Linked DNA regions of Homo sapiens. The protein of the gene in region 6 purifies or fractionates together with the protein of the main gene of each other region. This does not show direct contact. Each region holds a gene or a part of one and is shown on either strand. Other genes may lie near its edges. The genes, in order: LSM11, NOP58, HACD3, MAGED4B, SRPRB, ARHGAP36 and ATG2B.

Evidence for each region.
Region 1: the proteins of ARHGAP36 (region 6) and LSM11 purify together in Homo sapiens (affinity purification with mass spectrometry; one large-scale study listed by BioGRID and IntAct). This does not show direct contact.
Region 2: the proteins of ARHGAP36 (region 6) and NOP58 purify together in Homo sapiens (affinity purification with mass spectrometry; one large-scale study listed by BioGRID and IntAct). This does not show direct contact.
Region 3: the proteins of ARHGAP36 (region 6) and HACD3 purify together in Homo sapiens (affinity purification with mass spectrometry, with the first as the bait; one large-scale study listed by BioGRID). This does not show direct contact.
Region 4: the proteins of ARHGAP36 (region 6) and MAGED4B purify together in Homo sapiens (affinity purification with mass spectrometry, with the first as the bait; 2 studies listed by BioGRID). This does not show direct contact.
Region 5: the proteins of ARHGAP36 (region 6) and SRPRB purify together in Homo sapiens (affinity purification with mass spectrometry; one large-scale study listed by BioGRID and IntAct). This does not show direct contact.
Region 7: the proteins of ARHGAP36 (region 6) and ATG2B purify together in Homo sapiens (affinity purification with mass spectrometry; 2 studies listed by BioGRID and IntAct, with this or other methods). This does not show direct contact.

Annotation. Positions count from the first base shown.
Region 1 is NC_000005.10:157,742,378-157,746,511, reverse strand, and holds the start of LSM11 (U7 snRNA-associated Sm-like protein LSm11), read right to left. Parts: upstream 2,801-4,134; 5' UTR 2,762-2,800; coding exon 2,314-2,761; intron 1-2,313. UniProt on the Homo sapiens protein: Component of the U7 snRNP complex that is involved in the histone 3'-end pre-mRNA processing. Increases U7 snRNA levels but not histone 3'-end pre-mRNA processing activity, when overexpressed. Required for cell cycle progression from G1 to S phases.
Region 2 is NC_000002.12:202,286,263-202,289,762, reverse strand, and holds part of NOP58 (nucleolar protein 58), read right to left. Parts: intron 2,104-3,500; coding exon 2,039-2,103; intron 1-2,038. UniProt on the Homo sapiens protein: Required for the biogenesis of box C/D snoRNAs such as U3, U8 and U14 snoRNAs. Part of the small subunit (SSU) processome, first precursor of the small eukaryotic ribosomal subunit.
Region 3 is NC_000015.10:65,571,963-65,575,462, reverse strand, and holds part of HACD3 (very-long-chain (3R)-3-hydroxyacyl-CoA dehydratase 3), read right to left. Parts: intron 3,229-3,500; coding exon 3,097-3,228; intron 1-3,096. UniProt on the Homo sapiens protein: Catalyzes the third of the four reactions of the long-chain fatty acids elongation cycle. This endoplasmic reticulum-bound enzymatic process, allows the addition of two carbons to the chain of long- and very long-chain fatty acids/VLCFAs per cycle.
Region 4 is NC_000023.11:52,063,756-52,066,183, forward strand, and holds part of MAGED4B (melanoma-associated antigen D4), read right to left. Parts: intron 2,392-2,428; coding exon 2,328-2,391; intron 2,135-2,327; coding exon 2,055-2,134; intron 1,667-2,054; coding exon 1,575-1,666; intron 954-1,574; coding exon 874-953; intron 789-873; coding exon 746-788; intron 355-745; coding exon 292-354; intron 1-291. UniProt on the Homo sapiens protein: May enhance ubiquitin ligase activity of RING-type zinc finger-containing E3 ubiquitin-protein ligases. Proposed to act through recruitment and/or stabilization of the Ubl-conjugating enzyme (E2) at the E3:substrate complex.
Region 5 is NC_000003.12:133,812,315-133,815,814, reverse strand, and holds part of SRPRB (signal recognition particle receptor subunit beta), read right to left. Parts: intron 226-3,500; coding exon 89-225; intron 1-88. UniProt on the Homo sapiens protein: Component of the signal recognition particle (SRP) complex receptor (SR). Ensures, in conjunction with the SRP complex, the correct targeting of the nascent secretory proteins to the endoplasmic reticulum membrane system.
Region 6 is NC_000023.11:131,078,846-131,082,345, forward strand, and holds part of ARHGAP36 (rho GTPase-activating protein 36 isoform 1 precursor), read left to right. Parts: intron 1-2,678; 5' UTR 2,679-2,820; coding exon 2,821-3,073; intron 3,074-3,500. UniProt on the Homo sapiens protein: GTPase activator for the Rho-type GTPases by converting them to an inactive GDP-bound state.
Region 7 is NC_000014.9:96,311,342-96,314,841, forward strand, and holds part of ATG2B (autophagy-related protein 2 homolog B), read right to left. Parts: intron 2,095-3,500; coding exon 1,988-2,094; intron 1,817-1,987; coding exon 1,724-1,816; intron 819-1,723; coding exon 748-818; intron 278-747; coding exon 201-277; intron 1-200. UniProt on the Homo sapiens protein: Lipid transfer protein required for both autophagosome formation and regulation of lipid droplet morphology and dispersion.

The DNA.
Region 1 (4,134 bases), on a different chromosome or scaffold from region 6:
CTTAATTTTGCACTCCTTGTTTTTTCATAAACATTCCACACTGTCCTCTCTGTGAATTTGGATGGGTAACTTGGATCTGAATTGATGAAATACATCATTTTAAAGTCAGCGACAAAATGTAGCTCCTCATGTATTCTTCATTATGTTTCACTGATGATATGACCTAACAAAGCTTCTTCTTGCTGTTACAGCCTGATGGAACTTACATTTTATGTGAATATTTTGCAAAGGATTATGCATTCTCAAATGCATAGGCATTTTTTTCCAGAAAGCATTTGTATATGTCCACAAATAGTATTATCTTACTGGTATCTATATTTTGATTTTCCTGAGCAACTGTATCCAATCAGAGTTTAGAGTAGGCATATATTTTTTTAAATTAAAACTGTGGCATACATATAAAACATACCTAGTTCTTTTTTTTCCCCCCTTCCAACTTTTGTTTTTGGATCAGGAGGTACACGAAAGGTTTGTTGCAGGTGTAAATCGTGTGTCACTGGGGTTTGGTGCACAAATTATTTTGTCACCCAGGTAGTGATCACAGTACCCAATAGGTAGTTTTGTGATTCTCACCCTCCTCCCACCCTTCACCCTCAAGTAGGAACTCTTTCTTGAATGAATCCAATCCTCACCCATGTTTCTGTTGTTTTCTTGCTTTCTGAAGGTCATCAACTCTGTGCGACGTCAATGCCTTTCTCTCATGTACACTCAACTGTCTGCAGTGCCATGGTGAAAATTTTCAGTATGTAGGGCATATTCTCTGAGATCTTGATTCCAGGGATATATACTTAATCATAAGAAGTTGACAAAGCTGGTCTTCACACACTGTCATACCATTACAGTAAAGTGCTCTATAGGGAAAGCTAAAACCACCCACCACATAGCAATACACAGGAATATTCCTTTCCCTTGACAATCTTGGTAGCAAAGCAATAACTGGTAAAATAGAAATAAATGTTGCAATGAGACTTGGAGTGCATTTCAACTACCTAATGGTGGCAAATTGCATAGGCAAATTAAGGTCCCCCAAACTGCTCTCATTTTGGGAACAAGCATACTGTCTTTGTGTTACAGCCAGGCAAGCAGGCCGGGGTAAATCCTAGCTTGGGCAGGGATGCTGTGGCATGGTAAGACATCCAACGAAGGCACACGGAACAGCACAGAGCGTTTCAGGATGTTCTCTCTTAATAAACAAATTTCTAGGAATGAAGCAAAACAGTCCCTTGCTTGGCACACCTCTCCATCCAAAAGACAGTGACTTAATAAGGTAACAATTTAATTATCAGGATACAGATGCTTTGAATGGCTAAGTAGGTCATTGTGTTCACAGGGCAGATGTCAGAACTGCTTGCCAGATGACAAAAGAGATAACCTTAGGCTGTTTTTATTCCATTTATACAAGACCTAACTCACACATTAGAGCCTCTGCTGTTTACAGCTTTACTCTAAGGATCTATGAGGAGGCTCCAAGAAATTCCCTTGTGCCATTTACACCTTTAGAACTTAAAATAACCTGCACATATGGTAATATGAGCCTGACAGACACAGTCCTGCACCCAGCCAGGCAGAGTGGCTGTAAAACAGCGTCTGTGTTTTAGTGGCATTCTGTGCCTGCTGCATTTCAGCACTTGTGACTTAGTAATGTGAACATATGTGTATCAAGACTCTGCAGCCCTTCTGCTTATCGCACTCGAGAAGGAGCTGTCAATGTACAGGGGTTATGGGATTATGCGCCTGTGCTATCTGAACAAATCTCCCCACACTCCATCCGATCATCCTCAAATCCCACTGACCAAATACTCTCCTTCCCCTAATATTGGCTGTGCGCTCCCCCACGTCTCCCGTTTTCCGCCCCACCTTACCTCTCACTGTGGTCTCTAAGACCTCTCATCACCTCTGTAGACGTCCCTATGATGTCCCCCAAACTCTGTAGCCCCGCCACCTCTCCAGGTCCTCCATCAATCCTGTAGACCCTCTCGGCAGGCTCATCACCTCTGTGACCCTTCCATGGGCCCCGATTACCGCTGAAGACCTTTCCCACGGCTTCTTATGACCACTACAGCCTTACCACTCTCCCTCTGTTGCTCCTACAGCCCCTTTTCTTACTCAGGGTGACCCTCCCCACGCCCTCATTACCCACATTACTCAAGCAGATCCACCCCATAGTCACTGATGATCCCCGCAAATTTTCACCAAGGCGCTCCCGCAATACGTGCAGACCCGCGCCCGGCCACCGCCGCCCCGCAGACGCCCCCTCGGCAGCCAGCTTCCGGACGGCGGCTGCCCCGCTTCCCGCCCGGCCCGCGGACTCACAGGGCATTCGCGTGAGCACGTTGCGTGGCGCCTTCCTGCTCCGACCCGGACCCCTCCGGCCCGCTCCTGCGGCCCCGTCCCCTTCCTCTTTGGCCACCATGAGACGGCGGAGGCGCTGGATGCGCTCGGGGTCCGGGGCGGGCGCGTCCGGGCGGCGACGAGTCCTGCCCGAGGGCCCGGGTGCGGCGGGAACCCCAGAGCCCGCGGCCGCGCCCCGAGCCCGCCCGCGCCCGCGCCCGCCGCCCCGGACTCCGGTCCTGAGGAAGCTCTCGTACTCCGCCACGTTGTTGAAGCAGGGGGCATTGGGGTAGGGAATGGGAGGCAGGCGGGGCGCGTACAGGGCCAGCAGCGGGTCGAAGCTGTCAGAGCTGACATCCAGCCGCGGGCTGGGCGGGCGCGCGGGGCTCCCGGCGCCAGCCGACCTCGCCCCCCGCTCCCGCTCCTCCATGTTTGAAAGGCCCGCAAGCCGAGGCCGATGGGAAGAAGGAACGAAGCCGCCAGAGGGCGGCACTGCGCAGCCGCGGCGCGGGGTTGCACTGCGCCGAAGCGGCCGCGGGAGGGCAGCACCTGTCCTCGTTCCACCCGGGCCGGGGGGCGTGGTACGCGGCTCCGACCAGCCCGCGCCTCGCACCGCCTCCTCCCATAGCTGACAGGTTAACGCTGTCGACTGCTGCTTGACCTGCTCCAGCGCAGTTTCCCCGTCTGTATCATTATCACTTAGGGTGTTTGTTAATACTCTGGGTTCCCCGGGAATGAGCTCGGGATCGCATCCTAGCTTGAGCTGGCAGGAAGCGTCTGGAGGAAGGCAATGAATGTCTCAGTTTGCTTCCATGCTGAGTACTACTGATAGGGTGGGAAGAATAGCCTATCTGGGCTCAAAGTATTTAGCGTGTTTCTCGTCTGAAATATGATATAAATAGCACCTACCTTATAGAACTGACCTCAGGATGGAGAGATACTGCCTACAGAGCTCATAATAGATGCATGTCAGCCAATACTGGGTGTCTGTCCTCCATTTCCTATACCCTGTGCATAAACAAATTTGTGCTTAGTATCAAAGAAAATTCATTATATCACTGTCTTTCTAAGCATTGCTAACCAATTGGAAGAAACGAAGATCCAGCTCTTGGAGGAAACTATGGAAAATTCCCAAGACCTGATCATACCACTTGCTACTTTATAGTCTCAGTTCGGCAAAATATTTTTTGGTTGATTTTAAAATGACAGTCTACTCTTCGCGGAAGGCCCAGATATAACCTTCTCATCCAGCAGAGCCAAAATGTTTCCACTCACCTACAGGCCACACATCACTTGCCCGTCACCACATTCTCAAACTGCCATCAACTAGTATTCTCTGTACTAGTTGCTTTGTGTACATTTCAGTTTCCTTAAGACTTAGGAAGTCCAAGAGAATACTGGAGAGTACCTTAGAGAGCAAGATGAAAATTAATATACAACTCTGAAATATACCTTGGGATGAATGCATACTACAGCGAAGACAAAACCATCAAGCAGGCCGGGCGCGGTGGCTCACGCCTGTAATCCCAGCACTTTGGGAGGCCGAGGCGGGTGGATCACGAGGTCAGGAGTTCAAGACCAGCCTGGCCAAGATGGTGAAACCCCGTCTCTACTAAAAATACAAAAAATTAGCCGGGCGTGGTGGCACGCGCCTGTAATCCCAGCTACGCTGGAGGCTGAGGCAGAGAATTGCTTAAACCTGGAGGGGCGGAGGTTGCAGTGAGCTGAGATCGCGCCACTGCACTCCAGCTGGGGTGACAGAGGGAGACTCCATCTCAAAAAAAAAAAAAAAACAAAAACCAT
Region 2 (3,500 bases), on a different chromosome or scaffold from region 6:
CTGTCTCTGAGTTCACCTATTTTAGGTACTTCATATAAGCAGAATCATGCAGTATTTTGTGACTATTTCACTTAGCATATTTTCAAGGTTTATCATGTTGAAATATGTATCAGAATTTCATTTCTTTTTAAGGCTGACTAACATTCCACTGTGTGAAGTGGCTGGGTGTACGTTACCCAAAATGCTTGGGACCAGAAGTATTTCAGAGTATTTGCAAACACGTATGAGGCTGAGGATGGAACTCGAAGTCTAAATAGGAAATGCATCTACATTTCACATATACCTTATATACAAAACCTTGAAGGTAATTTTACACAATATTTTAAATAATTTTGTGCATAAAACAAAGTTTTGACGTGTGGTCAGGTGTGGAGTTTTCCACTTGTGGATTTGTGTGGTACCACAAAAAGTTTTAGATTTCAGAGCATTTTGAATTTCAGATTAGGGACATTCAAGCTGCATCCACAATGCAGTTTATCCATTCATCTGTTAAAAGGTATCTGGGTTGTTTCCACTGTTTGGTTTTGTAAATAACACTGTTATGAACATAGGTGTACAAGCAACTCAGTTCTGTTTTTAATTCTTTTGGGTATAAATCTAGGAAAGGAATCGCTGGTTGAGCGCTTTTTTTTTTCTTTTTTTGGAGACAGAGTCTAACTCCATCACCCAGGATGGAGTGCAGTGGTGCGATCTCAGCTCACTGCAACCTCTGCTTCCTGGGTTCAAGTGATTCTCCTTCCTCAGCCTCCTAAGTGGCTGGGACTATAGGCACACGCCACCTCGACTGGCTACTTTTTTGTATTTTTAGTAAAGACAGGGTTTCGCCATGTTAGCCAGGCTGCTCTCAAACTCCCGAGCTCAGGCAATTCACCCGCCTTGGCCTCCCAATGTGCTAGGATTACAGGTGTGAGCCACTGCGCCCAGCCGAATACTTTGTTTTTTTTTTTGAGACGGAGTGTTGCTCATGTTGTCCAAGCTAGAGTGAAATGGTGCGATCTCGGCCCACTGCAACCTCCGCCTCTCAGGTTCAAGTGATTCTCCTGCCTCAGCCTCCTGAATAGCTGAGATTACAGGCGCCTACCATCATGCTCAGATAATTTTTTTATTTTTTACTAAAGATCGGGTTTCACCATGTTGGCCTGATCTCGAACTCCTGACCTCAGGTGATCCACCAGCCTCTGCCTCCCAAAGTGTTGGGATTACAGGCGTGAGCCACGGCCGAATGCATTTCTAAAATAGAAAAACGATTAAGATTTTGATTTTTTTTTTTTTTTTTTAGTGAGATGGAGATTTGCTCTTGTTGCCCAGGCTGGAGTGCAATGGCACGATCAACTCACTACAACCTCTGCCTCCAGGGTTCAAGTGATTCTCCTGCCTCAGCCTCCCGAGTAGCTGAGATTACAGGCATGCACCACCATGCCTGGTTAATTTTGTATTTTTAGTAGAGACGGGATTTCTCCATGTTGGTCAGGCTGGTCTCAAATTCCCGACCTCAGGTGATCCTCCCGCCTCAGCCTCTCAAAGTGCTGGGATTACAGGCATGAGCCACTGTGCCTGGCAGCTTTTGAGCTTTCTAAAAACCATTTAATGACACAGCAGAATACACAACTACAAAGATTGCACTTATGTTTTTAACATTTTCATGGAAAAATACAAATGAATTAATTAACGTAATGTTAATTCTGTGATTCATATAATCTCCAAATAGTCAACCTCCGCCTCCTGGGTTCAAGCAATTATCCTGCCTCAGCCTCCTGAGTAGCTGGGATTATAGGTACACGCCACCATGCACATTTAATTTTTTTTGTATTTTTAGTAAAGACAGAGTTTTGTCATGTTGGCCAAGCTGGTCTTGAACTCCTGACCTCAGGTGATCCGCCTGCCTCAGCCTCCCAAGTGCTGGGATTAAAGGCTTGAGCCACCACACCTGGCCTCCTTTCTCTTTCTCAACAGACAGAATCATAAAAGATAGTTTCAACAGTATGAAAACGCATGAAGGACAGAGCAACAAATCGGACTTTGCATGTACTATACTTACAAATTGCCTGAACAATCATTGTGTCTACTTTATCAGCGCTAAACTTCAATCTATATCGAGACAGGCTGGGAAGAAAGGGGAAAATAAATTAGCAAGATAGCATCTAGGAAAAGCATTTAAATTAACACCTTAAAGTTTTTTTTTGTTTTTGTTTTTACTCAAATCAGCCTGTAGTCAGAGCTGTAATTGGTTTTTCTAAGAAGAAAAATCAGCTAAGTAGAAATGCACCATACGAGAACAGAAAATACACATTAAAAAAAAAAACTATATGTGCTGCTACGACCTTTATTTCTGTAACATGAATGAGTTTATGTATGAATGACAAATAGGATAAGCTGTGTAATACAAAAGTCATATTGGACTGGGCGTGGTGGCTCACGCTTGTAATCCTAGCACTTTGGGAGGCCGAGGTGGGCAGATCACCTGTTAGGAGTTCGAGACCAACCTGGCCAACATGGCGAAACCCTGTCTCTACTAAAAATATAAAAATTAGCCAGGCATGGTGGGGCACGCCTGAATCTCAGCTACTCTGGAGGCTGAGGCAGGAGAATCGCTTGAACCGGGGAGGCAGAGGTTGCAGTGAGCCGAGATCACGTGCCACTGTACTCCAGCCTGGGCAACAAAGCAAGACTCCGCCTCAAAAAAAAAAAAAAAAAAAAAGCCATATTGGTTCATGCAATTTTTAATAGCACATATTAAGCTTTATACTACCAGTTAGGAACTTTGCAGGACTCTTAACATCTGAAAACAGAAAGCTGTGGAGTAACAATATTGTCTGTATAAAAATGTTTTTTCATCTCAGCACAATTAATATTTTGGGCCTAATTCCTTGTTGTACAGGCTGCCCTGTGCATTATAGGACCTTTAGCAGTATCCCTAACTTTTATCCACCAGATACTCATGGCAGACCCCAACCCACCTCCAATTGTGACAACCAAAAATGTCTATGGACATAGACAAATGCCTACTGGGGGGACATCTGATTGCCCTTGATAGGGAACCACTGCTATACACAATGCAGATTTACCCAGGTTTGGATTTTTGACTCAGTTTCACTATTTGTTCTCTCTTAGAAATGCTTATTACAAAGCTCTCCCTAACCTTTGTGCATTTTTGCTCTTAACTCTAGCTTAGCAGCTTCAACCCTTTCAATCTATGCCCACCTTTTAATTTTAAAATAGACCTTTTTAAATTGTAGTGTTTCTTTTTTGTTTTGTTTTGAGACGGAGTCTTACTCTGTCACCCAGGCTGGAGTGCAGTGGAGCAATCTCCACTCACTGCAAGCTCCACCTCCCGGGTTCACGCCATTCTCCTGCCTCAGCCTCCCGAGTAGCTGGGACTACAGGCGCCCGCCACCATGCCTGGCTAATTTTTTTGTATTTTTAGTAGAGACGGGGTTTCACTGTGTTAACCAGGATGGTCTCGATCTCCTGACCTCATGATTCACCTGCCTCAGCCTCGC
Region 3 (3,500 bases), on a different chromosome or scaffold from region 6:
TAATCTCAGCACTTCGGGAGGCCAAGATGGGTGGATCACCTGAGGTCAGGAGTTTGAGACCAGCCTGGCCAACATTGTGACGCCCCATCTCTACTGAAAATACAAAAATCAGCCAGGCATGGTGGCAGGTGCCTGTAATCCCAGCTACTCCGGAGGCTGAGGCAAGAGAATTGCTTCAACCCAGGAGGTGGAGGTTGCAGTGAGCCAAGATCGTGCCACTGCACTCCAGCCTGGGTGACAGAGCAAGACTCTGTCTCAAAAAAAAAAAAAAAAACTAAAAAGTCCTTTGACCTATATACAAATGTTAACTGGCTGTTTACACTGCTTCAAAATTATAAATGTGAAATTAGGATTTATTTCATTCTAAAGAATAAGAAAAGAGCAACTACATATTCACTATAAGCAAAGTAGATATGAACATAAAATCTTGCAAATTAGAGTGTACAATATAAACAACACAAAAAAAGATACTAAGTCAATGCACTTTAAAATATTTCTACCCCTCTACCCTGTTCACTAAAATATTTTAAATGTCTTTCCAATATTTATTCCTCTTTATCTTATGCCCATTTCATGGGGCCTAGTTATACTGAATTTATACAGTAATAAAGGTAAAAAGCTGTCTTTAATTAGTACATTTTCTGAACTGAGGGTTCCTCTCTTCAAGGGCAAAACATTTTAATATTTTTGGTTGGCAATATTTCTGAAATGGATTATACCCTTTGCTGAAACAGAAAAAAAGAAAGAAATTTTAACCTTTTGCAAATGACGTGGGCCTACAATGTATACTATTTAACTGTACATCTGCCAGGCACTGGCACACTAAGGGGCTCCTAATACTATGGTATAAGTCTCTCCTCCCGCAACACTAAATGACCAAGACCACTGGGCTTTCTGGCTTCCTGGGCTTACCTTGCGTGGTCTTCCTCTCACTGTCTGGGGTAGCAAGCCGTGACAATGATCCCAACAACCTCTATCTCCTGTTATTTCATACCTTTGTGTAGTCCCCTCCCATGTTATACTGGGTTGGTCTGTGTGATGATTTGTCACTTCTGAGATTAGGCACTGTGGCTTCGGGCTCTCTCTCTCTAACCAATTGCTTTGGGGGAAGCCATGCCATGAGTAGCCATATGGAGACGGGCTATGGCAAGAAACTGAAGCTTCCTGTCAACAGCCACAAGAGTGAGCTTGGAGCAGATCCTCCAGCCCCAGTCAAGTCTACAGAAACTGCAGCCCCAGCTGACAGCCTAACTGAAACCTCATGAGACCCTGAGCCAGTACCACCCAGCCAGGCTGCTTCCTGACCTTCAGGAACTATGTGAGATAATAACTATTTATTGTTTTCAGCTGCTAAGTTTTGGGGGTCATTTGTTACACAGCAATAGAGAACTAATATACTATTGTTGCATCCTTCTGTGGCTAGGAGACTGGACAGTTATATTTATTTAGGGCCACCTTAAGTCTTTTGTGAAATAAAGCAAGGAGAAATATATAAATTACCACTAAAATGTATCAGAACTTTAAAGAGTCCTTATAGTTAGGAGCTTGTCTTATCCTTAAACATGTAAAGTTCTATGTATGATAATCAGTGTTTTCTCCTCTCAAATATATTTAATGACAAAATTCCTTTCATTCTGTTTTTATGTTCTTAGTTGTCATACTAAAATCGATACGTATTAGTTTGCTCTTAAAAGGAAAAAATTATTTTTCTCAAATTGTATTTAACCTACACATAAGAATGTATGTATTTTCACATCTATGTATAGAGTATAGTATAGATAATATGGGTAGAATCATGTATAGTTGCATTTAGAAATTACCAAATACTGATTACTAATAAATTTTTTTTTTTTTTGAGACAGAGTCTTGCTCTGTCACACAGGCTGGAGTGCAGTGGCACAATCTCGGTTCATTGTAACCTCTGCCTCCTGGGTTCAAGCGATTCTCCTGCCTCAGCCTCCCAAGTAGCTGGAATTACAGGCATGCGCCACCAAGCCCAGCCAATTTTTGTACTTTTAGTAGAGACAGGGTTTTGCCATGTTGGCCAGGTTGGTCTCAAACTTCTGTCCTCAAGTGATCTACCCACCTCAGCCTCCCAAAGTGCTGGGATTACAGGCATGAACCACCATACCTGGCCTCTAATAAGAATTTAACAACAACAACAACAAAAAAAAATCCTTATAGTTAGGAAGCCTTTTAAATTTGTCATATTTGTAATAATTTAGGTTTCTTTCTTTTTCCCTTCTGTTAGTTTATAAAGGCAGGAATTTATGATTTTATATAAATTAATAGGTCAGCAGGTTTTCCATGAGGAGCAGGGGACTTTCCTATTGTGAGGTGGAAGGCTTTATGACAACCCTTGGCTGCTCAGAGGCCTTTATTCCCTTCTTCCTTCCTTGCTGCTGGTTGTCTTATCACCTCTATAAACTCTGGATGAGGAATATGCTACTGAAATTAGTAAAAGTGGGAGCTTCTTAGTCTATTTTAAAAGGCTCCTTACTTTTTTTTTTTTAATTTTTATTTATTTATTTATTTTTTTTTTTTTTTTGAGACAAAGTCCCGCTCTGTCGCCCAGGGTGGAGTGCAATGCTGCAATCTCAGGTCACTGCAACCTCTGCCTCCCGGGTTCAAGCGATTCTCCTGCCTCAGCCTCCTGAGTAGCTGAGATTACAGGCACCCGCCACCACACCCAACTAATTTTTGTATTTTTAGTAGAGACAGGGTTTCACCACGTTGATCAGGCTGGTCTCGAACTCCTGACCTTGTGATGTGCCCACCTCAGCCTCCCAAAGTGCTGGGATTACAAGCGTGAGCCACCATGCCTGTCCCCTTACATTGTTTTAAACAAGAAATATCTTATGGTATATTCCCAATCACCAAGAGCACTTAAAGAACATAATTTAACTGCTGGAGATTTAGAAAAGAAATATTTCCTTACCATAGCATATTCCCCTAGTGGGTCTGTTTTTGCAAAGTAATCATTCTCTAATTCTGTCCCAAAAGAATTCTCATATGGACTTTTACATTTCTGAATGATTTAATTCTACTGTCTAAGAAGTGACAAGAAAAAGTCTGTATTAAAGAATCAATACTTACCTAAAAATATCATTATAAGATAAATCTGAAGAAAAAAGGAAAATCTAACTTTGATTTTCACTGGATATGGCAATGTGAAACTGAATCGTCCGGTCTCATTGAATATTGGAATGGACTGAATCACTGAGACAGCTGAAAACAGAAACAAGAACTTGTTAGAAGCAAATGAAACAGTCACATTTAATGACAGGAACTTCCAGTCCTAGTACTCTAAAGTTTCAGTTCTGGGTGTGCTGGAAAGGCTTTCTCCTCCCTTTGTACAGAAAGCTCATGCCTCTCCTTTTTTTCCCCTACTTTTCTAAGAGATCAGCCTCCAACCTGTCAACAGAGAGACAGATGAGGAAGTCATGGTAGTGGGCTTCTTCTATTCTATAAAATGGAGAGGAAAATCCCTAGCTGACTTA
Region 4 (2,428 bases), about 79 Mb from region 6:
GTGTAAACCAGGGGGAACTCTTGTGTCAGTCTACAGGGCAGGTGCTCAAGGTGATGGCGGCCGTTTTCACACCCCACACCGTGTTCTCAGGTGACGTGAGCTCCCTTTTCCCAAGACCGCCCTGGCCTTCGGCTCCCCACACACTCGCATACCCCCCACTGCCACTCACTCCCAGGTCAGAGGCACCCATCCCTCCAGTTGAAGATTTGGGATAGGGAACTGCTTTCTCAGCCAGACCAGCACACAAAGGATGCTCGAGTGAGAGCCGCAGTTAGCTCAGGTGATACTTACTTCTGCTTCACAAAGTCATCTGTGATGAGCTTCCTCAGATCGCCGAGGAATGGGTGCCTCACCCTGAGGGCAAGGAAAGGAATCCATGAGCAGAGACGGTGGCAGGGGCCCTCCCTAGCATGACTATGACTTCCCAGCCCCCGGGGAGTCGCTGTGGAGGCCTGGGCATGCAGCAGAGGCCAGAGGACTGTTGGTCAGGGACGCCCCAGGTAGGGATTTGATGGAATCCCTGACTCTGACTGTCTCTCTTAGATGTCATCTGGGGCCACAGAGCAGAGAGAGGGCTGAGCAGCGTCCAGCACCGCTTCCCCATCCGCCCTGGTGAGATCCTTTGCTCTCTACCGAGCCCAGGGCACCCCACGCCCTTGCGCCAGACCACCAGGCTATTGCAATCCCAGGACCTCTTTGGCCAGAGGATAGCACCGAGGGGAGGAGCTGGAGAGGCCAATCATACCCAGGGCGCAGTCCCATCTTGCGTAGTGCCTCCCAGAGGACAGCTGCGAGGGGAGAGGAGGTACGAGAGTTTGGCACCCAGAAGATGAGACTATGGGCAGCCCCCCAGTTGCAGGTCCAGCCACTCACCCTCGCTGGCACGGTTGCCATTCATGAAGATGACGCCCAGAATCACCAAGAGGAGACTCAGCCTGGGAGTGTCCTTGGTTCTAAAGGTGTGGAAAGAGAAATCCTGTTTAGCAGCTATTTGCCTGAGAGACACCACCAGGCTCTCCCAACTAGCCTCTCTCAGGTTTCCCAGCTTGAGGGGAACTCTTCCCAGGACAGGCACAGTTCACTAGCTGCTGACAGACCATTCGCACCTCCGCCTGAGACTTAATCGCCTCCTCTATAAAACATGGGTACTAACACTTCCCTGACAGGGTTCTGCAGAGGACAGGGCGAGGCAGGGAGCCGAAGCTCTGCAAATGGCAAACGTGTGCCCAGAGATGGCTCCAGACCTTTCCTGCCCCTTCCACATCAGCACCTACACTGAAGAGGCAGCTCTCCCCTAGGCCAGCTCTGCCAGGCCCAGGCCAGGCAGGCAGGAGGAAGAGGCACTTTCCTCCGAAGCTTTGGGGATAAAGCCCGGCAGCAGCTTGGGGAGAACTGATGGCAGCAAGGCCTCACCCCAGGCTATCATTCCTTTCATCCAGCAGTCACCAGGCAGCCCTCGCTGTGTGTGGGAGCGGTGCGCCGCACTCAAGCCCCGTCTTCCTGCTTCACTGAAGGGGTGTGGGCAGGGAAGGGACACCACCGAGGAAGGCCACGACCCGCTTTCCCTTTCTTACTTTCCAAGGAGGCGAGCTGAGGAGTCCCGTGTGCAGACAAGAATATACAGGTGTTCTTCCTTGTCGATCTCCTTCAGGTGGATCCCAAACTTCTACGTGGGGGAGAAAACAGAGTGTGAGATCCAAACCCCATGCTGGGCATCCTGCCGGCAGACAGTGATTCCGGGTTAGAACTGCTCCTCAGCAAGGAATCCAAACTCGTGAGCGAGGGCAGAAGAAGACAGCACACGGAAGACCTTCGCTGTGGGAGCTGACGCTGGCAGAGGCGATGAGACCCACCTGGCCAGACGGCGAGACACTCAGAGAGCATGAGAGAGAGAAGCCGAGGGCAGGAAGCACGAGTCAAACTGCCAGTGCAGTGGAAGCTCAGAGTCGGAGAGGTGAGAGATGGCTCCAGAGACTGGGCCTTGAGGGGCTGCAGGGTCACCGCACCCCCATGCCCGCTCTTCCCCCACAGAGCTGCTCCCATCCTGCACCCACCTTTTCCAGGGTGTACGTTGCTCGTTCAATGATCTCAGGGAAATGTTCATCATATTCTCTGATGACATCCTTCAGCATGTCTGCAGGAGGGGGAAGAGTTGGAGAAAGCACCTGGGCTGAGCAGGGGTCATAGAGCTGTAGCCCCTTGGTCAGCTCTGCCGAGGGTGACGCAGCCAGGACCCCGTCCTGTGGCTATGGAGGGACCAGCCGTGGCACGCAAGCAAAGGGATGCCCACAGACTAGGGGATGGTGAAGGGGGCACAGGCTGCCTACCTGCGCGCTTGATGGGGATCTTCTTGTAGTCCTTAATCATCAGGTATTTCACCAACTTATTTGCCTGGAGAAGGAGGAACATGCGGGGAGGTCAAGGCATG
Region 5 (3,500 bases), on a different chromosome or scaffold from region 6:
TAATAACAACTGTAAATAATGGAAATAATTCTTAGTAGCAGCAATCCCCAAAAAACTCAATTATTATTGCAAGAAAACATGATGGCACCTTGCTTATTGCAGGCTATTAAGAATGATGGTGTATTCTTCAGACCCATACTGTCAATGAGGACTTGATACAGAAACTCAGCCACATCTTTCACCTCTCGCTGGAATGCTGCACTATCCACAACAAACACAATAGCCCTGGAGGGAGAAAACAAGAAAAACTGGCATGTGAACGTGTAACAGGACATCATTATCTTGAAAAACTATCCTGAACTTCTTCAAAGTCAATCTTGGTGATTAACACTCAGCAGACACACATGCAGGTCTGTGCATATGTTATCATATAACATAAATCCTCATTTAACAAGGAACTATTGAGTGCTACTGTGTATCAATGACTGAAGCTGAAAAAAGACAGTAAGAAATGATGCCTGTCCTCCAAGACAAATCATCATATAGAGAACCATATGATAAATGCCAAGACAAAACTATGCACATGTGTAACAGGAATAAAGAGAAAGATCATTTAAATGAGACCAGGTCAAAGGCAACTTTAAGGAGAATGTAACAGTTGAGTTGAATCTTAGCTAGACCAAAAATTGGGGCACAGGCTGTCTGGAAAGTACAGGTTGAGTATCCCCAATCCAAAAATCCAAAGTCTAAAATCCAAAACACTTCTGGTTCCAAGCATTTTGGATAAGGGATACTCAGCCTACAGTATGTTCAAGCCACAAATACGTGAAACACATTCCCTGGGGAAGTCAAGGTAAGCTGGTACACAGGGAGATGGGGAAATGAAGGAGAACCAAGTCAGACAGTGAGGCGTGACACAATGACCTGTGGAGTTCATGCTTTTCTGTCTTATGAAGAATATTGGTGCCTAAATGGAAGACAAAGCAATCTTAGAGGGCGCTTGAACTAGAAGCACAGTGACCAGGTAGGGCCTGAACTAAGGCAGCCATAGTGGGACTCCTCATGTGACAGAAACAAAGAGATATCAAAGCTAAAGTGCAGCAGCCCAGGGAAACTGCAGACAACAGGTCTTAGGGGGCCGGGTGCGGTGGCTCACGCCTGTAATCCCAGCACTTTGGGGGGCCGAGACAGGCAGATCACTTGAGGTCAGGAGTTCGAGACAAGTCTGGGCAACATGATGAAACCCAATCTCTACTAAAAATATAACAATTAGCCAGATATGGTGGCGGGAGCCTGTAATCCCAGCTACTTGAGAGTCTGAGGCAGAAGAGTTACTTGAACCCAGAAGGCGAAGGTTGCAGTGAACTGAGATCATGCCACTGCACTCCAGCCTGGGTGACAAAGCGAAACTCCATCTCAAAGAAAACAAAAAAACAAAAAAACCGGCCAGGCGCGGTGGCTCACGCCTGTAATCCCAGCACTTTGGGAAGCCGAGGCGGGCGGATCACGAGGTCAGGAGATCGAGACCATCCTGGCTAACACGGCGAAACCCTGTCTCTCCTAAAAATACAAAAAATTAGCTTGGTGTGATGGCGGGTGCCTGTTGTCCCAGCTACTCAGGGGACTGAGGCAGGAGAATGGCGTAAACCTGGGAGGCAGAGCTTGCAGCGAGCCAAGATCGCGCCACTGCACTCCAGCCTGGGCAACAGAGCGAGACTCCGTCTCAAAAAAAAAAAAAAAAATACAAGCCTTATGGACAAGGGTTTGAATGCCCAGGTGGAGATAAGAGACATGCAATGGCCAACATGCAGCTGGGGAGCTAGAACTGAATGCCCTGCACAAAGCCTACAACTTAAAATAGTCTCAGGGAGGTCGGGGCTTGCAAAAAAAGTTCCCTTAGAAACAGCGGGCCTCCACTGCCTCACACAGATATAGGGTATGAATTTATACTCTCTCCAGGTGTAAGACCCCCAAGGGGAAAGGCTTACATAAAAATTGGGCCAGACTTATTGAAGCCCTATGGCCCCAACAGAAGGAACTATGAACCGCTTATGGAGCAAGGCTTTCATATCCTACGGGATTAAAGAACCACCACAATATCAATGATGTGTCACTCTTGAAGAAAGGTTCTGGAGCAAAAATTACAAGGCACAGAATAAAATAATTATGAGGGAGAATAACTGGTACCCCAAAGAGAATAATCAGCACCCCAAAACTAAGATAATAAAGCTATCTATAAAGTAAATGTTTAAAATTATTTAAGAAAATACTACAAACTACAATAAAAAATAGAATAGTATAAAAAGAAACAGGCTGGTTTGAAAAGGTAAGTATTTTAGACAAATATAGTAAATGATATTAATAAATCAATGGAAAAGTTAAGCAGAGATCATGCTCAGCTGAAAATAATGTAATAAACTAGAAAACAAATCTGAGGGAATCTTACAATATGCGAAGTAGAAAGATCTGGAAGATACGATAGAGAGGAAACAAGAAAGGCAAAAATAATAAGGTTCAATAACATTCATAAGAATTCCAGAGTGTGAGAAATGATCATGGGGAAACAGCACTACCTGGAGAAACGATGGTGAGAATTTTCCAAAACTGAGGAGAATCTTTGGTTTGGAATAGCACAACTGAATTCCAAGAATGATAAAGCTAAATCCATCCTTGAACAGAAGAAAATCTATCCCTGGATAGAAGGTCAAATCAGGCAGACTTACTACAGTGAAATGACAATTAGACTGACTGGCAAAAACATTCTCATCTGCAACAGATGGATGAGGTCAGGAGTGATGCGGCTGCCACCCAGGACTCTGCACTCAGCTAAAAGAGACATTCCAAAATGCTGGCCAAATAGAGTTACAAATGAACAAAGACTGAAAACATTTGACTACTCATCACCCTCTCTGGAAACACTTCTAAAAGATATACTCAGTGAGGGAAAACTGAATCTAAAGGGAAGAAGTAAAATTCAAGAAGCAATGGGGAGCAAAAGACCATAAGCATCCTGGTAATTCTCATCACTGAATGTAAGAGGAAAAAAAAGTATGGATGGGGGTTAAAAAGGAGCATAAATAAAAGGAAGATGTGAGGAAGATGAAAGTTAAAGTGTTTAAGGTTCAGGAAAAGGAAACTGATATTATTGGATTCAGACAATCAAATAGGCAATGTTTAAAAGATGGGGGAGGGGAACCATGATAAGAACAGCAACAGCATATGTTCAAATCAGGAGAGGGAAAATAGCCACTAGGGAAACTTGGCGAAGCCAGAAAGTAGGATTAAAAAAAAGTCACATACCAATATAGTAAATGTCTTTTCAACTTGCATGTTATCATGATTATAATTTATTTGAACTAAGTTTTATCTTCATATTTTGCATGTTTTATTTACCCAAAATACATGAATCACAGAGTAGTTATACTGCAAATCATAAAATATTTAGAACTGGCAATAGAAAAAGAAAAAACATTTAATTGGAAATAAAAACCCAATTATGGCAAAATTTACCAGCTCTAGATTTGTCTCAATTGTCCAAGGAATTTTCTTATCTGTGACAA
Region 6 (3,500 bases):
CGGTTTATTCTAAGGCCTTTGATTTCCTTCGGAATTGTAAGCATCTAGGCTGACTCATCTCTCAAAGGCTTTTCTCTCTCTCTCCTTTTGGGGCTGTTGTTGATTGGGGATTTTACTGTTTGTTCTTACCTTATATTTGGGGGAGAGAAGGGACTGATTTTCATCTTATTTTTGGGTGAAAAAACCAGCTCTGCTCTTTGGATGATCAGATCTGGTAAGCTTCGATAAGAAGAAATAGCTGAAACTCCAAAACAGGTACAAAAGATATCTGGATTGGGGAAAGGGGAGAGGGGAGTAATGTTAGAGAAATTAAGCCAGAGCTAGGCTGTGTGTCTCAGGATGAGACCCTAGACTAATAGGCTCTGGACCTGCTATTTTGAATGGGGAATTGCTAGAGGCTTAGTCTGGAACTGTGGTTAAATGCATGTGCCTTTGGTTAAAATGGTCACTTTGCAAGTTGCAGTTTGGTGGTTGGGGTTAGGTGTTCACTTTGGGTCCAGGGGATGGAGCTTTGCAGTTGAAGGTTTAATATCTATGCTAGGTGTTTTCCTCTTGGTTTAGTTCAAAAGCCACAGGAAAACTCCTCATCTTTTCTCTTACTGCACCTATTTCTGACATCTGTGATCCTGGCTACTAAGGGAAGTAGGCAAAAGAGTTTTGGAGACAAAATTCAAGTATGGTTTATTTGTTTGTTTGTTTTTTGTTTTTTGTTTTTTGTTTTTTTTTTTTTGGACAGAAGGTAGCTCATCTATTTAGATTATTGCATGATAAACCGTTACTTAACTTTTCTCTGCCAAAGCTGCATTGCCTGATCTTTGAAATTTAAGCTCCCCACCCCCCAAATCATATATAGAATGTTATTGTAGATTCCATGGGAAAGAGACATTCAGTAAAGTTGTATGTAACTACTTCCTTTCTTGGCAAAAGGTTTAGTTCCCCATCTCCTGAATTATCTTCTCTATCAGGAACCAGCCATATTTACCCAAACCATGAACTTGGGAGCTATCCTAAATTGTTTTCTTTCCATTGCAATTAAAGATGTTCCCTAAGCCCTGTCAGTTCCATCCATGAGATTCGTCCCCTACTCCAGCCCTAGTGACACTGACTTGTGTCAATATCCCTTGCCTCTTGGCTCATCTACCTACTTCCAGCTCTCTACCCAAAACAGGCTTTTTCATGGCTTTCTGTGATTTTTCCAAGGTGCAACCCTGAATCTTTCACTCCCTGCCTAAAGCCCTATTGCCTTCAGGAAAAAGTCCGACTCTTTAAGCTGGCTTATAGGGCCATCCATGATCTCATCCCTGCCCATCCAGATTTTTCTCCTTCCAATCCCTTTATACAGCTTCAAGAATATGACAACCTCTCTCCCATCTCTTTTCCTTTGCACAAGCTGTTCTCTCTGGATGCTCCCCTCCTCTGTCTCCAGGCAGATTTAGCTGTTTTCTCCTTTCTGCTCTCACAATACTTTGTTTATATCTTGGAGGTCTAACATCACAAGGTTTTGTAAATTGTTGCTAACTTGTGTATCTCCTTCACTGCACTGTTAAATCTTTAAAAAAAAAAAAAAAGAAATAGTATTACCTTGCTCATCCTTTCAATCTTTAGCGCCTGGCACAAAGTGGGCAATTAATACAGGTTTTTGTTTTAATGAATGAATGAATGAGTGAACAAATGAGTAATAGAGAATGTGCGGGAAAGGATGCTGTGTGAGGTGTAGGGGCATACCCCATTGGGGATGCTTTGTAGTCTGGAAGTAGTATAAGATAGTGGGCATCATGGAGAAGGCACATATAAAATAGGTTTTACCATTACACTAAGACAAACTCCACTTTGATACCAATTCTGTTTAAGGAGTCTCACTAGAAATGGTCTGGAAATGATGTTTGTTGGTTTTGGTACAAATGATTTTTTTATGAAAAAGTAATATAATGAAGTTGTACAATGTTTGGTAAATAGAGAAAAGCAACAGGCAAACAAAATCTCACCAGTTAATGCAAATGCTGTTAGCATTTGGGTGCATTTCCTTCAGTCTTTTATTTTTATGCATGTTTTTCTTCACATAGTTGCAATCAAAATTAATACAATTCTGTGTTTTGTATTTGTTGTTAAAAAACTCTTTGTAAATATAACTTTAATGATTGCATAATTTTTCCATACTGTGGCCATTACAAAATTTATATAACTAATATCATTGCTGGGCTAGCTTTTTTTCCCTTTTTTTGTTACTATTATGGTTTATGTGGATATGCTTTTCCCTGTCTGTAGGAAGATTTTATTAGGATAGATTCCTAGAAGGGGAGTTACTAGGTCAAAGGGCCTGGGGACGATTTTTGGCTCTAGACCCATGTGTCCATTTTGTTTTCTGGACTTGTCTGAATTTGCAGCTCTCCTAACCTAGATGAAAGTCCCCTTTTTATCCAACCTGGACAGCATCGAGTATCGTCATGGAAAGAAAAAAAAAAACCTCTAAAAACGCTCTAATTAATTAACTAATTAATTAATGGAAAATACTATCTTATTTTTGTTTCAAAGTGCTTTTGTTAAAAAATGTTTTTCTCTTTTATTTTTTCTTCTTATTTTCTCTCTTTGTACTTTTTTTTTCTAATTAGGTTTTCTTTTTCCTGGACTATCTGTTAAGGGCTGAATTTTTGAAGTTGGATTTTTTTTTTCTTTTTTAGCAAAAACAACCAGAGGCTGCTCTGCTTGAGGGTGAAGCCGCCTCCCAGTTTTCCCTCCCCCTCTACCCCCACCCCCATAGTTCTCTCCACCAGGTCCAGTGACAATTGGATGATGCAGCCTTGATAATCATCCGATTCCAGAATGGGTGGCTGCATTCCTTTTCTGAAGGCAGCAAGGGCACTGTGCCCCAGAATCATGCCCCCTTTGCTGTTGTTGTCCGCCTTCATTTTTTTAGTGAGTGTCTTGGGAGGAGCCCCAGGACACAACCCCGACCGCAGGACGAAGATGGTATCGATACACAGCCTCTCTGAGCTGGAGCGTCTGAAGCTGCAAGAGACTGCTTACCACGAACTCGTGGCCAGACATTTCCTCTCCGAATTCAAACCTGACAGAGGTAAGCTGTACCCCGGATTGTGGCATCCTCGCCTTCGGGAGAGTGGACCCTCCGGGCAGGACGGGGCGGATTAGGGGTCTGGCAGGGTGGGAGGGGCTCACGCCTGATCTCGGACTTGATCAGTTCTCCTGGCGTCTGGGGAACTGAAGAAGCCGGAGTTGAAGGCTGTTTGTTGAATTGCGGAAGAGGTAAAAATTAGTTGAGTTTGGTCGAAGGCTGGGAGTTGAGGGGGCAGTAAGACAGACGGGCAGATGTCAGGGACAGACAAGTGGACAGAGGGCCGGTGAAGAGACAGCCGCAGCAGGTGCGGTGCGAGAATAGGGCAGAGCGAGACGGAAGCGCAGAGGGACACTCTGGAGAGAACTGGGAGAGATAGAGACAGCGCGGTCGAGAGACAGAGAGTAGAGGGAGATAGCAAGACAGTGCG
Region 7 (3,500 bases), on a different chromosome or scaffold from region 6:
TCTTTTTTTGCATAGATTTACATTAAATAAGATTCATGATAATCTGTCTCGCTACATAAAAAAAGTATTTAAATAAATCCATTTTTAATATACTTACTCTATTTCTGACCAAAATTAGGTACACGGAAAAATGTTAAACTCAATTTTTTTAATCTCTTAAAAAATAGAACTTAAAATTTTCATTTATTTTAATAACTCACTTGCTCTCCATCAGAATCAGACTTCACTGCAGTTATGGTTAACTCCAAAAGCCCCATATCCATCACACGAACATAATCTAAAATTTTTAAAATTAAGAAAATCTCTTCAGTACAGCTTTCAAAAATGTGTATCCAACCAACACCCAATACAACTAGCATTCCTTTAAAATTCATTGCAGAGAGCACTACAAATAATTATAATGCAATGAAAATAGTTTCATCCCATAGAAGTCCTAAAATTCACTTTATTTTTTGTTAGAAACAAAAATTATCTTAAATAAAAATTTGTAGTATATATAGTAATTTGATGTACTTAACTAGCATTATAAGAACATTACAATTTCAAACTGAAAAACCAGTATCTGAAAAATGAAGCTGTGAATATATACCACATGATCACTATATACTTAAAGACCCTTTAATCTTTAAGGATCTTTAATAAGATTCTTAGTTCACTAGCATTATCCCAGAGTTAAAATGCTTTAAAATTATTTACGCACAAAAATAAAGCAGAATTTATCTACTCCATTTGTTTTTTAACTCTTACCTCTACTCAGATTTATAGTGACAGTATTGCATTTGTCAGATAGATGTAAAGCAGCTTCATCCAAGATTATTCTGAGGCAAGAAAGATAAAACCAACATCTGAAAAACTAAGCTTTGAGTATCATACCCCATAATCACTATATGCTTAATTGCATCATTCTTTCTGGTATGAACATTGTTGAAATCATAAGCAGTTTCTAACTTATAACTGTCATCTAACATTTTTTAAAAACTGTTTATGAATGCTAGGAATATTTAAATGGTGTAAAGAATTAGATTAAATCATCTACTCAAATTAATTCTAAATTTTTGGCAGTTTTTAAAGAGATGCCCAAATTCACAAGGTTTAAACTATAGTATAAAGATAGAGTGGGCCAGATGTAGTGGCTCACACCTGTAATCCCAGCCGTTTGGGAGGACAAGGCAGGAGGACCACCTGAGGCCAGGAGTTCTCAACTAGCCTGGGCAACACAGCAAGACCCCTTCTCTACAAAAACAAAACTTTTTTTTTAATCAGCCAGGGATAGAGGCACACGTCTATAGTCCTAGCTACTCAGTAGGGTGAGGGCAAAAGATCACTTGGGCTCAGGAGTTGAAAGCTGTAATAAGCTGTGATCATGCCACTGCATTCCAGCCTGGGCCACACAGAGCAAGACCCTGTCTCTAAAAAATAAAAAAATTAAATAAAAAGTATAAAGTGTATCAGGTAGCATGGGAAGTTTACCATATGTTTTAAAATGCAAACTTTTTAAAGAATCTCCAGAATTAATTTCTTCCCTAAAAATGAAATGCAATAATAAATGGGTAGATGAAACATGTCACCTGAGAAAAATTGGGTAATTTGGGTAAAAGGTTATAACTATTAGTAAAAGAACGTTTAACAAAAAATTGAGACTTTAATAAAATGGTTTAGGTAAATATCAATTGGTATGTTTCGAACAGCTTTGTTTAGTATACAATGAAGTTTACACAGGTACCTGAGAGTAGAGGAAGATTTATCCAATGCAACGCTACTGGAAACACTGAATGTTTCCACGGTAAGAAGAGATCGGATTGGCAAATAAAGGGGTCTAATGCCAAAGAGAAACAAAAGAACATCAGTTTGATACGGCTCCAGAAACTCTATTAAAAACAACAACAACAACAACAATTTGAACCTTAACTCTACTGAATTATGTATTTTTTTCAAAATTTAGTAGCATTTTAAATAAAACTTTATTTTGTTCCATTTGTGAACTTACCTATAATCAAGTGCACAGCTCCAAAGATGAACATGAAAAGTTGTAAATGAAGTTGGAGGATTATATCCCAAAACAGGTTCATCAGCAATATTCAAGAAGTATAAAATCTATAATCACAAAAAATTAAAACGCCCTGCTTTAGAAGAAAAAAAAGGTTTCATATAATATCCTTAATACCAATGTAAACCAGAATATCTCACAGAAAAAATCATTTAATTGGAAAATCATAACGGTAAAAGGAAAAAAATCATCATTTTGAAGGAATTAGTTTCAAAAAGTACTTGCATCAGAAAAGAAGGTAATGGATACTGATGGATGTGTTCGTTTGACTACAATAGGCATTTTACTATGCATATCAAGACATGTTATTCACCTTATATATAATAAAAATAAATTTTTTAAAAGTATTTGCAAAATTAGAATTTGAAATGCAGAAGCCTATCCAACAACTCCAATGCTACAGAAATCTTAGAAAATCACACCTTATGAAATTAATAACAATGTATGCATAATATAATTTCATATTTTTTGGCTTGGAACAATTCTCAGAAAAAATAAATTTTGCTAAAGACTGCTTAAAACTATCAATCTGGCTTCTTATATAACTCATTGTGTGCAGGGGCGATTGGTTTTTCATATAAGTCATTGTTGAAGGAAGCTCTTTTTCCTTAATGTATACCTAGCTCAGTCTAAAAACCAGTCCCTCTCACCAACATCTATTCTTTCATATTTCTAATCCAAACAAATAAGGAGGTTCTGCTAAATGTCTCCCTTCCAGCTGGTTATTCACCCTAACCACTTCTCTACTCCTACCAGATAGAAAGTCAGACAGATATTCTCATGTTTCCTAAATGCTTTCATGAGAAAAGAATTTTGAAAACACTCAAGTTTTTAAATAATGTATTATTTTCCCAGCACAATTAAGAAGTTCTCCTTTATAAGAAACATGAGAAGCAATCATAGTGCACTAGTTTTCATTCTCACATAAGGAAAAGCTAACTTCTTACTCAAAGTCTCCTCTGAAAAATAACCAATTGTATTTTATTACCATAAAAAGTTGTTGAACTGGAAATTAATGAGAGAAATCCTGATAAAATGCTTTAAAGCAACATCATATTATTGGCCTAGGGAATTATATGGAAATATTGCACTTAAAGAACTTCTGATTATAAAAGCAATTCAACACACCATTCACTGCTCCTCTACGCCAGACATTCTACAAGTCCTGGGATACAGAGTCCCTTCCCTTCCTTTAATGACATATAAGATAACTCTGTCATTGAGAGGTTTTGAGGACCACACTTTAAGGTAAAAAACCAATTACATTCTGAGGTGATAATACTGTTTTGTTTTGTTTTGTTTTGTTTTGTTTTGTTTTGTTTTGTTTTTTGAGACAGAGCTTCGCTCTTGTCGCCAGACTGGAGTGCAGTGGCACGATCTCAGCTCACTGCAACCTCCGCCTCCCGGGTTCAAGCGATTCTCCTGCCTCAGCCTCTCCAGTAGCTGGGATTAC